Linked DNA regions of Homo sapiens: regions 1 and 3 are each linked to region 2. Evidence: fine-mapped expression QTL. A gene starts in region 2. Each other region holds a variant in brackets. All regions are shown on one strand. Distances are between the middles of the regions.

Region 1 (4,218 bases), 180 kb after region 2:
GACAGGGTCTCACTCTGTCACCCAGGCTGGAGTGCAGTGGTGCGATCACAGCTCACTGCAACAACCTCCTAGGCTCAGGCAATCCTTCCACCTCAGCCTCCTAAGTAGCTGGGACCACAGGCGTATGCCACCACACCCGGCTAATTTTAAAAATTATTTGCAGACGGAGTCTTCCTATGTTGCCCAGGCTGGTCTCAAACTCCTGGGCTCAAGCCATTCTTCCACCTCGGCCTCCCAAAGTGCTAGGATTACAAGCGTGAGACATTGCACCTGGCCCTAACCCTCAGTTTTAATCCCCTGACCCCCCACCCATGCCGACTTTATTTCTAATCCTATTGGACAGAATGTTCATCTCCTGTGCATGGGATACTTCTCTTTCTCTCAACATGCACGCGCGCATGCACACGCACACACACGCACACATGCACGTTGTTATAATCCTATTTGTCTTGCATATATTTTGGCTATCTTCCAATCCTGGAGAGTCCAAAGCAGTGAGAGGGCCCAGGTAAACCTGCCCAGATGTGGGCTTGTGCTTACTGGACATGCTGGTGAGACAGCAACCTGCGACCCTGGTGGGATGCCACACCGTGTTGATCCTGGCTGCTGTCCACCTCACTGTCTCCTGCTGTCTTAGAAGACAGTCTTCCATACGGAATCAAACGGGCACTGCAGGTTAGCAGGTGTAGGAGATGGAGCGTCCAGGGCATAGGGGAAAGCTTTTAATTAAGTTGTGAAAATGCATTGTGAAACTTACACCGCAGCTACGCAGAGGGCAGAAGGGAGGCTGTGTTTACTCAAAGTCCCCGAGCAGCTCAGATTTACTCGTTCCCTCCAATGACATGCAGGGCACTACGGGAAGCCACGGCACGTGGTTTTGCAACCTTCACAAAGCGTGAGAGTAGCCTGGGAGCTGTGTGTCTCTGCTGCTCTCTTTCATTCTGTTATCTTGTTTTCCTAAGCGGGGGTCACCAGGGACCACCACTATGGGCACAGCTGGGGGATACTGAGGACATTTGGGAGCCGATTACCTTTACTGTTTGTGAACAGTCCCCTGGCTTTGCTGAGAAATTCATGGCTACTCTCTTCGTATGGCTACAATTCTGATTTTAATCAATTTACTTCAAAAGGCACAGCAATCTTACGGGCTAATTTGGACTCTCTGTCCTAATTTTAAAATGTTCTTTAGCTAACAACTTTTATTTCTGTGTTTATGGGAGAAAATTTAGGGGGAACAGATATGTAGAAAGGAGAGTATAATAATTGCCTGTAATCCCAGCACCCAGGGATCGTGGCTGTTTTTTGTTTGTTTGTTTTTATATTTTTGTTTGTTTGTTTTGAGATGGACTCTCACTCTGTCACCCAGGCTGGAGTGCAGTGGTGCGATCTCTGCTCACTGCAACCTCCGCCTCCTAGGTTCAAGCAATTCTCTTGCCTCAGCCTCCCGAGTAGCTAGGACTACAGGCGCACACCACCACGCCTAGCTAATTTTTTGTATTTTTAGTAGAGGTGGGGTTTCACCGTGTTGCCCAGGCTGGTCGCGAACTCCTGAGCTTAGGCAATCCGCCCGCCTCGGCCTCCCAAAGTGCTGGGATTACAGACGTGAGCCACTGCGCCCGGCCATGGTTGTTTTTTTTTTAGCATCTGTCTACTAGATATCTAGTTTCTTTGTATGTCATATACATTTTTCTCTGATTTGTTTTTTAACGAAAAGTAATTCTATACATGGTTAAAAGAATTAATTGCACATAAATGCATACAATGGGAAGTCAGCGTCTGCTCTGTCTCCGAGTCCTCGTTCTTTTTGCCAGAGTGATCTGGACCCTTGGCGAGAGAAGCTCCATCCAGCTCTTCATGGATTCTCAGCATTATTATAGAATGTTTTGCATC[T/C]GGCTGTGGGATGACTTGCATTAATTACTTCTGCTAGGTTTGCACAGCAAGCCTGGGGCCTTGTCTGCTGCTGTGCTTCGTGGTCTGGGAATTTCAGGCTTCAGATTTCACAATGGGAGGTGGTGGAGTGACAGGGCCCCCTTGCAAGCTCAGCACCCCGTGAGTGATTTTCTAGGGGGCCGTGGAGAAAGTCTAGCTCCATTAGCTGAATGGCATTTTCCTCTCTGCTCCCAGAGGAGCTGTCCTCTGTGCAGGGGCTCTGAATGCTCAGGTGCTTCTCACTGCTCATGCTCACGCAACCCCGGAGGTCACGTGTGTGCTGCCTCTGACCTCAGGGGTTTATGGGCCGCAGACTTCCCAATGTCACGCTACTGTAGGGTGAATTCATCAGCCTTTGCCTTCCTGGTTTAAAAACTCTTGCAAAAATGCCAAATGGGTGTGACCTTTTCTTTCTTCTCCAACAGAAGCCTGGAATGGTCCCCCCTCCGCCGGGAGAAGAAAGCCAGACGGTCATCCTTCCACCTGGCTGGCAGAGCTACCTGTCGCCTCAGGGCCGGCGGTACTATGTCAACACGACCACCAATGGTGAGTCCCGCTCGGGGGAGAATCCTGCACCAACCCCCTGGCATTCTGGCTCTCTAGAGGGGCACGTTTTTTCTCCCTTCTTCGCCTCTCTGTTTGGGGGTTTTTTCTTCTTAAGTCTATGCTCAGGGGCTACAGTAAAGTCTTACTCCTCCCACTGTGCTGGGTGGTAGGGGTGCAAGTCTGGGTCTGTAGTTCTGGGAGTATCTTGGAAGGAAGGCTGCCCTTTATGGTTTGAGTCTTCCTTGGACCCTGACGTCCACCCTGGGTATCTGTGTTAAACCCAACCTGTTCGTCTGGGGCTGGGTTTTCTGAAGGGTGTCTCAAAAGGTTCTATGGTCAACAGCTGGCTTGAATAAAATGAACGAGGCAAAGTCACTGCATGATGTCTTGGAATTTTGAAGGTTTTAATGATCTTGAAGCTTCAATACAGGGGTTGCAAATGCGAGGTTTCCCTAATTTCACTACAACGTCATCTTTTTCCTTAAGTATCTCACTGGCTGGCATTTCTCCAGATGTTTTTTGGGAAATGCCGGGGGTGCTTATGGGTTATTTATCCCATCAAATAGTACAGGTTCCATGTGCATCTGAGTTGAATAGGACCACACCTCAATGACCCCAATAATTAGGGACCTCCCAGGCCTTCAAATGACCCCAGGATCCCCAGAAGTTTGCTGTGGATGGTTTATAAAAGGGGATGCACCACGTGGCAGGTTCTGTAACAAGGTGAGCAAAGGGCACTGTTGCAGGCTGTGGTCTTGGGCAGGGCAGGACAGGGTAAACCAGCTGAACAGAGCTGTGTCTTGACCTCCGTGACTCCCCAGAGAAATTGCCATGAGAGAACTGAGAGGATTTAAACCAAGGAAAGTTAGATTTAGTGGGAATCACAGACATGCGTTCCAAGGCAAAAGATGAAAATCGTACCCAAGTCCACTGCTGGCTCAGCCTTGGCCTCTCACTCCTCTGTGCCTGCCTGACTACATGACCACCCCTTCCCACCTGGGGGTATCGTTACTACAGCTGATGTTTATAAGCCTGCACCAGGAGGGGGTCCTAGTGACAGGGGAGCCAGCTACTGTTTAGCAGAGACACAAAGAAGGCAGCTGGTTTATTCGTATCCCCTGGCAACCTGACCTTCCACAGGCTCAAGAGGGGTGTTCTAGCGCAAGAGGTAATGAAGTTTCTAGGAAAAGGGAAGTAGGACTATTTCTGACCGTTCTAATCTTACACTTCCTCAAAACAAACACATGAACAGCTTTGCACTGTTACCGGAGACTTGAAATTTCAGAGGAGAGTGTGTCTATGTATGCAACACCCATCTGCCAAACACAGAATTTGGACCGTAGGATCATGAGATCATCAATTATTTGGGACAACATTGGATCCAAATTATTGGAAGGTCAGGTTGCTAGGGGATATGAATAATTTGGATCCGTTATTGTCCCAAATAAGCTACTCTATTGCAAAGGGGCATGGGGGGAAATGGCTTTCTGAATTTCAGCATCTTTATCTTTTTTTAAGTTAGAGACTAGTTTGTTTTCACGGTAAAAAATTCAGTAAGTACAAAATGATTTCAAATAAAAAATAATCCCCGGTCTCACCTTTTAAACATATGTATACTTATTCTTTTAAAATAAATTGGAAAATATTGTCTATGTTGTCCTTTAAGTTACTTTGACAGTGTATGTGGACATCTTTCTATACTTTGTACATTTCAGTCTAACCCATTCTTTTAAACAGCTGTGT
Region 2 (4,218 bases):
CTTGTGTCACTTTGCCCATGGCCAGAGAACAGATGGAGGCTGCTCAGGTGAGATGGCTTAGCTGCAGACTAGGGCTCAGTAGTGACTCTTAAAACCTGGGCATGAGTATTTTTAAAAAGTTGCATAATGACTGTAATGTGCAGCCAGGATTGAGAACCATTGAACTAGGTGAAAGGCTCTGTGCCAGGGTCTGATTCAAAGCATAGACAGGTGCGCAAGATCTTCAGGCTCTTGGAGCCCGGCCTGACTGGTTTTGTAATGGATATCTAGGCAGTCATAGTAAGAGGTGAAGCTAGAGGAGGCGTTGTGGAGGGCCTGAAATGTACAGGCAGAGAAGTTTGTACCAAATTTAAAAGGCAATAGGGAGCCACAGAAGGTGACTGGGGGAGGGGGGAAGGAGTAGACAGAGGTATACAGGCGTATTAAAGGGTCCAGCTTTTTTTTTTTTTGAGACGGAGTTTCACCCTTGTTACCCAGGCTGGAATGCAGTGGTATGATCTCCGCCCACTGCAACTTCCACCTCCCGGGTTCAAGCCATTCTCCTGCCTCAGCCTCCTGAGTAGCTGGGATTACAGGCACCCGCCACCACGCCCGGCTAATTTTTGTATTTTTAGTGGAGATGGGGTTTCACCTTGTTGGCCAGGCTGGTCTTGAACTCCTGACCTCAAGTGAGCCATTCGCCTCAGCCTCCCAAAGTGCTGGGATTACAGGCGTGAGCCACCGCGCCTGGCCGAGTCCAGCTATTTACAGGCTAAAAAATGTACTTTATTTTATTTCTTTAAAATTTTTTATGGAGTAGACTAGCAAAGAAACCAAGCTTTCTTTTACTTCTGTACGGTCAGTTCAAGGTCAACATTCTGCAGCACTCAGGTTCACTGGTCCCTGGAGAGCAGGGACTGGCCCAAATGATGTTTGTAGTACCTGGCACATCGCATGGAACATGGCAGCCTCCTGGTAATGTTTGTTGACTGACTACATGAGTGTAGACTCTTTAGCCAACCCATCTCGATTTCGGGAGGGCTGGTACCCTGGGCCGGCCTTCCCTCTGCAAGTAAAAGCATTGGTGCTGTTCCTCTCACCGTTCGCCTTTCCTCCATTTATCCCCATCGACTGTTTCCAATTCTATCAACTCCGACCCCGTCTTCTCTCCATTCCGTCCCTCCAGCGTGCCACGCTGCCACCAGGCTGCTGGGCTCAGGCGCCAGGCTTCAAACCTGTCTTTCACCCATTGTTCAGTTTCCGGTGAGACAAGTTCAACCCCAGGTTCAACCACTACAATGACAACCACAAACGATCCCTCGCAGACACCTCGAAGAAGCCGCCCGCACGCCACGGGCCGCCAGGCCTACAAAGCAGGCACAGAACAGAGGGGCGTTTCCATTCCCGCGGTCCCCGGCGGTGGGGGCGCGAGTGGGAGCCCCTCTCCCCAGTGACAGGCCCCTCTGCGAGGGAGCGCGCAGCCCTCCGCGGGCGTGGCCGCCCTGGCCCCGCCCCGGCCCGCCCCCTCGCCAGTGAGCTAACCCCCGCCCGGCCACCCGGCCGCCAGCTCCTCTCCACGGCCGCCCGCCGCGGAGTCCTGCCGCGGGGGATGCTCCGGGTCCCACCTCCCGGGGGAGCTGCGCATTTCCGCGCGCCAGGGCGGCCCCGGCCCCGGTCCCGGCCCCGGCCCCGGCCAGCCCTCGCGGCGGCAGCCCGCGTTCCGCGTTCCCGGGAAGTTGTCTCCGGAGCCCGCGGCGCCTGGGTCTCCTCCCCCTGAGCCCCGCCCCCCAGCCCAGAGCTAGGATCCGCGAGCTGCCCGGCCCGGGGGCGTCGCCGCTCGCTCTGCGAAGCCAACGAGTCTCTGCTTCCCGGCGCGGAGCGCGCGTCCCCCGCCTGCCTGAGGACCCCCGCGCACCCCAGAGACGGCGCGCGCCCAGAGCGCGGGAGCCCGGAGCGCCGGGCGCCTGGGACCCCGCGGAGCCGCTGCCCAGCCCGTGGGGCTCGGCGGGAATGCAGGCTGCGCTGTGAACCCGGGCGCCAAGGCCATGTCCGGCGCTCGCTGCCGGACCCTGTACCCCTTCTCCGGGGAGCGGCACGGCCAGGGGCTGCGCTTCGCCGCGGGCGAGCTGATCACGCTGCTGCAGGTCCCGGACGGCGGCTGGTGGGAAGGCGAGAAGGAGGACGGGCTCCGTGGCTGGTTCCCGGCGAGCTACGTGCAGTTGCTGGAGGTAAGGGGCGAGGGCCGGGGCTGTAGGAGCCGGGGCTGCGGTCCTCGGTGCGCTCGCGTACCTGTTGCCCGTTCCGGGGATGCCGCAGCGTCCCGGTCGGAGGGGCGCCCCGGGGGGCAGCCCTTGCCGGCGCTACCTGTAGCTCCACGCTCCTGGGGGGCAGCGACGGCAGCGGGCGCCCCTCGGGGCGTGGGCAACGCGGACTCGCGGGGAGCTTCCACCTTGCGCCGGGCCTCCGGAGCACACCGTGGCTGCTCTGAGGAAGCGAGAACTTGTTGCCTGTGTGAGTTAAGGAGCAGGCGGGAGCGTTCCCGGCAGTGGCAGGGGCCGGTGAAGGGTCTGGCGGTCTTGGGAAGAGGCACGGAGGATCAGGGGTGCGAGAAAGTGGCACCGACTCGGTCCCGCAGCCCCGCGTCTCCACCCCGGAGTCTAGAGCCTGATGACCCGTGGACGGTCGTGCTGCCTTGGGTCAGGCTGCCTGGCCGCCTCGGGACCACCCACTTGCTGGTCAGCCGAGCCTGCTGGCCACCAGCCCGAGCCCCCTCAGCAGGCTTGATCCTGGGGTGCCGTAGCACCCCCCGCCACTGCCTGCTCCCCTGGTCCAGCTCCCCGAGGCTAAGGCTCAGAACCCGAAAGTGGCTTGTTCCTGGGGTTCTGGCCTGGCCCCAGGGCTGCACAGGACCTGCTGAGGCAAGGCGGCTGGCTGTTTATTGTCTATGTGACAGGCTGTCCTCTAATCACTGAGCTCGCAGTCACAGCCTGAGTGAGACCCGAAGTTTCTAAAGTCCTTTGTGTGTGGGGGGGTGACCTTCCAGGACATCCCCTTTACTAGAAGCCCGCCTGCCCCCAGGATTCTTGTAAAGACTAAATTAACAGTTACCTTCAATGGTGTCAGTATTCCTAAACATTCTGGTAAAACACTGCCGGAAGAAATCATGGAGGCTGAATTTATTTATTATTTAACTCTTGACCTACTTCACAGAGAAAGTAGCAAATTTTGACTGAGAATGCTCAGTGCAATTCATCGGGGGCGGGGGGAAGAAAGAAAGAAGTGAAATGGTTACAGGGTGAGTCCGCCTGAGGATGTATCCTGTGGCAACATTGTCAGCAAGAGCCTGGCCTTATAAAAGTACATTAGATTGCTTTCAGGTCCAGAGAACAACAAAATCTCTCCTAAAGGCATCAGTAGCATTTGAGCAAAGTTTAGGGGCTGCTGGAATGAGCTTTCATGGGCTGTCAGCAGAGTATGTTGCAGGAACCCTCTTGGTTCTGTATCTGGAGAATCCGGAGATACCCTACTTGTAGGAGAGGCTCAGGTGTGCCCTGCCCTGGCTTTTCCAGTTCCTTTCCCGAGATTCGGATGTAAAAGAAAGCGAACGTATTGCTTCTTACATGAGAAGCAAGGGGCCTCCTTGTTTCTAGCTTGAAGCCCTGGGATAGATACGTATTTTGGGAGTTCTTCGGGTGGTCACCCTTTTCCAGGAAATTCTGATGTGGAAATTTGGCTGATGGATGTCTGTCCGGTGAGGAGCATCCCTGGCTGGACTGAGCCAGCTGTGTTTTGTGTAGGGGTGAGGCTGGGTAGGTGTTAGTTAGCAAGAGTGGAGTGCTGCTTTTTCTTCCGGGAAAGGGACGATGGACCAGGGCCAGGGGACAAGCGGAATTAACAACTGGGACAGTTTTGGGTGTGTCTGTCCCATCCTCTGGCATATACAAAGGTAAGAGATCTCTGGTGTCTCAGGGCCTCTCAGACCATTCCTGACTAGTAACTTGCAACAGAAGCATCCATCTGCGTGAGCAATACTTCTGAGCACCTGCTTGGCACAGTGTGTGCACGTTATCACCAGTTCCCTGACAGCTCTGTGAAGGGTGAGGTACTTCCCCCATTTTATAGACAAGCAAGCTGAATATGAGAGAGGCGAAGTCAGCTCCCCAACTAGTAATGCTTGCGTGTTTTGTTAGCAGCTCAGATGACTGAGTATCACCCCCTGCGCCTGTGCCTTTTTTAAAC
Region 3 (4,218 bases), 83 kb after region 2:
CTGGATTATCCACGTGGGCCCAGTGTAAGCCAAGGGTCCTTATGAGAGGGAGGCAGGAGGGCCAGAATCAGTGTTAGGAGATGTGATGTTGGAAGCAAGAGGCTGAGTGACGAGAGGAAGGGGCCGAAAGCCAGGGAAAGTGGGTGGGCTCCAGAAGCTGAGAAAGGCAAAGAAATGGATTCTCTCCTAGAGCCTCCAGGAGGAACCAGCCAGCCCTGCAGACATCTTGACTTTAGCCCTGTGAAACCTGTTTCAGACTTTTGACCTCCAGAACTGTAAGATAATAAATTTTCATTGTTTGAAGCCCGTTAGTGTATGGGAATTTGTTACAGCAGCCTCAGGATATGAATAGACCTCTTTATCTCCTTTCAGTCTCTCACTCACTCTGGCAGGTCCACCCCTTTGCTCTGTTTTTTCTTTTCCCCCCCTCATCATTTATCACCTTCCAGCAAAACTGGATCATTGACCTGTCTGTCTGGCTTGTTGTGGGTTGTGTATCTCCCCTGCTAGAATGTAAGCTCCCTGAGGCATGGATCTTTGTCTTGTTAACTGATGTATCCCAGTGTCGAAACCTGCGTCTGGTGTATAAGAGGTGTTCAAGAAACCTGTGTCGAATAAATAAATGAATGAATATGAATGAATGATTCCTTGGTCTGGAATACCTTCTCTTCCCATTGTCTCTGCCAGCTGCCCTCTAAGTCCACTTCAGACCCACTCCCTACCCGCAAGAGCTCTCCTGTAAGTGACTTCCCTGGCAGGATGCGGCTGGTGCTATCTGCTGGTCACCTTTCCTGAGCACCCAGTGGCTGTGAGCAGCCCGGCCAGTTGCAGAGACCCGCTCAGCCCAGGGCACTCTTCTTCAGCTTGCATTCCCCGGGGTAAGCCCTGCAGCAGCCAGGTACTCTGGAGAGTATTCATTTTGTTCCATGCATTTCTTACAGATGAGCACTGTCAGAGTCTAAGGGACCCAGCTGATCTCTAAACCCAACATTTTTTTTTTTTTGAGGCAAGAGTCTCACTCTGTCCCCTAGGCTGGAGTGCAGTGGTACAATCTCAGCTCACTGCAACCTCCGCCTCCTGGGTTCAAGCAATTCTTCTCCTGCCTCAGCCTCCTGAGTAGCTGGGACCACAGGCACACGCCACCACACTCGGCTAATTTTTGTACTTTTAGTAGAGATGGGGTTTGGCCATGTTGGCCAGGCTGGTCTTGAACTCCTGACTTCAAATGATTCACTTCCCTTGTCTTCCCAAAGTGCTGGGATTACAGTCGTGAGCCACCATGGCCGGCCAACCCAACCTCATTTTGATGATGATCTGGAGAGGTGAGGGGTCCCACCAAGGTGCTGAGCAAATTTCTAGGGCTTCTAAGTCTCAGAAGTCCTGGTTGGATGATCTGTTTGGGAGAGCTCCTTCTCTCCACTGCCACCCCCAGGGACAGCGTGCCTCACTCGTAGAAGGTACTAAGAATTTGCCTGGATATTGGAGCTTTGGAATCTGTCATGGCTGGGGAGGTTGGTGAGTGGGGCACGGTTTTAAGGGAAGGTATAAGGTTCTCCCCAGGGACTAGGGGCGGGGGAGACCAAAGGATTTGTCTTGTTGTTAACAACAGTAGTATGGAGGATGGGGAGTTTGGAAAAAGGAAAGGAAGAAAAGACAAGAAATGGTAATAAGTATGGGCAAGAGTTGTGTGCCCACAATGGACACCTCATGCTAGGGGACCCCCAAGTGTATGGACACTGCCAAGAAGGGGCAAGGAGGGATGAGAGAGGCCTTCTCTGTGCTGAGGTGTGCTTCCCCGGGGCACAGCTGCAGCCTGTAAAGGGTGAACAGTTAGGAACACTTCTTTCTGCTGTCTTCTCTGGGGAGGACACGTGTTGCAACACTTCCTGAGT[T/C]GGGGAGGAGGTGACACTTTGCCCCCCACCCTCCTTCAGACTGCTGATGAAGTGTGCTTAGTTATGAACCTACAGCTGTGTTTTTGCAGCGTTCCCCCCGCCTGTGCACCCGCCAGTCCCACGGGGGGCTCCCCTCCCTCCTTCCGTCCCTGGTCCTTCCCTCTGCTGGCTGGTGACTCACTCAGCTCTTGTGCAACAGCCCAGGCTCTCGCTCAGAGAAGAGCTGTTTTCCTCCATCCCATAAGCCCCCGTCCTAATTTATGTCTTTTCATTTGGGTTAATGCTTTCCACATTTAGGTCTGGAGATTAGCGTGTGGCTCATTGATGCAACCACCAAAACCCCAGTGCCAGCTTGGGTCTGGCACAGAGAGGCAGCCAGCCAGCCAGCCAGACAGACAGACAGACAGAGGACAGCTTGGAGCATGACCCCCAGCCTGTTGGTCTGCAGCTGGCCCAGCCCTGCCAGCCACAGAGGCAGAGCGAGGAGGCAGCCCTGACTCCTGGCTTGCCAGAGAATCATTCTCATGCCAGTTTCCTGTGAAGGACACGCATCTTGGAATGGCGTGAAGAGGAGATTGCCCCAAGCCTGTGACTTCTCATTGAGGAAACTGTGTGTCGGGAAGTGAGAGGCACAAGTTCTAGGGTGTGGAAAAATGCGATCTCTGTGGCTTTCAAAGCTGTCACACAACACAGTGTGTGTGTGTGTGTGTGTGTGTGTGTGTGTGTGTGGTTTTTCTCTTCTCTTTAGAACAATAATATTACCTTTGTTGCTATGGTGTTGTTATGGGGGTGGCTAATTGGACACAGCCCTGATGCTGGCTGGTGTGTGGTGTCCATAGTGATTATCAGACGGCAGCCATGGGACCTGCTTTGATTTTCTTCCCTGGAGTGAGAAGCAGGCAGAGGATCACTCGGTGGCTGTGTATACCCTGCCTTTGGTGGTGGCACCCCAGTCAGAAACGGGACCCTGAAGCTGGGATTTAGGTAAGGGGAGGACCTTTCCAAGGCTTGTTTACAGCTCAGATTTGCAGAGGACCAGGTATTTGGGAACTCCTCTTCTGAAGAACCAGATTGCAGGGCAGGGCACAACGAGGGGCCTGTTGCATCTTGGGAGCACAGGGCTGTGTGCTCTGGTAACCTGGGCCCACTCACCTGGCAGGCACTGGCTTCCTTCCCAGTGAGACTGTAGCATTGACGGAAAAGTGCATGGTGGCTCATGCCTGTAATCTCAGCACTTTAAGAGGCTGAGGCAGGAGGATTTCTTGAGCCCAGGAGTTTGAGATCAGCCTGCGCAACATAGGGAGACCCCCATCTCTACAAAAAATAATGAAAGAAAAAAAAAGATTAGCCAGGCGTGGTGGTGCATGCCTGTAGCCCCAGCTACTCGGGAGGCTGAGGCAGGAAGATCACTTGAGCCCGGGAGGTTGAGGCTGCAGTGAGCTGTGATCACACCACTGCACTCCAGCCTGGGCAAGATAGCAAGACCCTATCTTGAGAAACAAAAGAGACAGAAGTATGTTTGGTCAGTATGTATACCCAAAAGTATATCTGTTAATTTTATACTTATCAAATAGGTAATATATGCTCAGGTCTGATATCTGAAAGGTACAAAAAACGTAGAGTGAAAAGTTGGTCTCCTTCCCATCCCTGTCCTCAACCTATCAGTTCCCTTCCCGAGTGGCAAACAAGTGATCAGTTTCTTGTGGGTACTTCCAGAAGTAGTCCAGGAATTTCCAAATATGTTTCATTTTATTTTCCTTAACCCAGGAAACCGTGTGTCGGGAAGTGAGAGGCACAAGTTGTAGGGGGCGGAAAAATGCGATCTCTGTGGTTTTCTGAACACAGGTATCCCCTCTATACTTCTGCACCTTGCTGGTGCTACTGATGCTTTTTGTTAAATCATATAACATATCTTGGAGTTTAGTCAATAGGAAGAGCTTCCTCCTCCTGTTTAATGCCTGCCCCACTCATTTCACCAATGGGCATAAAGGTTGCTTCTAATCTTTCTCTGTTACCTTTACCTGTTGCTGCTGTGGATAGCCTCGTATATCCATCATTCTGCACGTGGGTGAGGGTCTCTGAAGGGCAAGTTTCTGAGGTTGAAAGGTTGGAACAAAGAATATATGTGTTTGTAGTTTTGACAGAAAGGGCCAGATTGCCTCTAACAAGACTGTTCTAGCTTACACTTCTGCTAGCAGCGAGTAGGAGTGCCTGCTTTCCCATAGCCTTGCCAGCATCGTGCACTTTCAGATTTTTTTTTAATTTCTGCTTGGAAAAGTTTGTCTTTACTTTCTGTTGAATTTCTCTCCCATGGCTCCCCCACTCT

Evidence for each region. PIP is the estimated chance that this variant, and not a neighbour inherited with it, causes the effect.
Region 1: its variant is fine-mapped to the expression of GAS7 in whole blood (INTERVAL, PIP 0.93).
Region 3: its variant is fine-mapped to the expression of GAS7 in whole blood (INTERVAL, PIP 0.99). The same link has a PIP of 0.9 or more in blood mononuclear cells.

What each region holds. Positions count from the first base shown.
Region 1 is chr17:10,018,034-10,022,251 of GRCh38, reverse strand. GAS7 (growth arrest specific 7) reads left to right here. Exons shown (of 14, transcript NM_201433.2): 2 at 2,355-2,475. Among named protein-coding and RNA genes, the nearest start is that of RCVRN, 110 kb to the right of the region's middle. The variant T/C (reference allele first, on the strand shown) is at 1,891.
Region 2 is chr17:10,196,197-10,200,414 of GRCh38, reverse strand. GAS7 (growth arrest specific 7) reads left to right here and starts at 1,809. Exons shown (of 14, transcript NM_201433.2): 1 at 1,809-2,207. The coding sequence starts at 2,025.
Region 3 is chr17:10,113,100-10,117,317 of GRCh38, reverse strand. All of the region lies in intron 1 of GAS7 (growth arrest specific 7), which reads left to right. Among named protein-coding and RNA genes, the nearest start is that of GAS7, 83 kb to the left of the region's middle. RefSeq lists an enhancer at 1-50 and a silencer at 2,005-2,064. The variant T/C (reference allele first, on the strand shown) is at 1,893.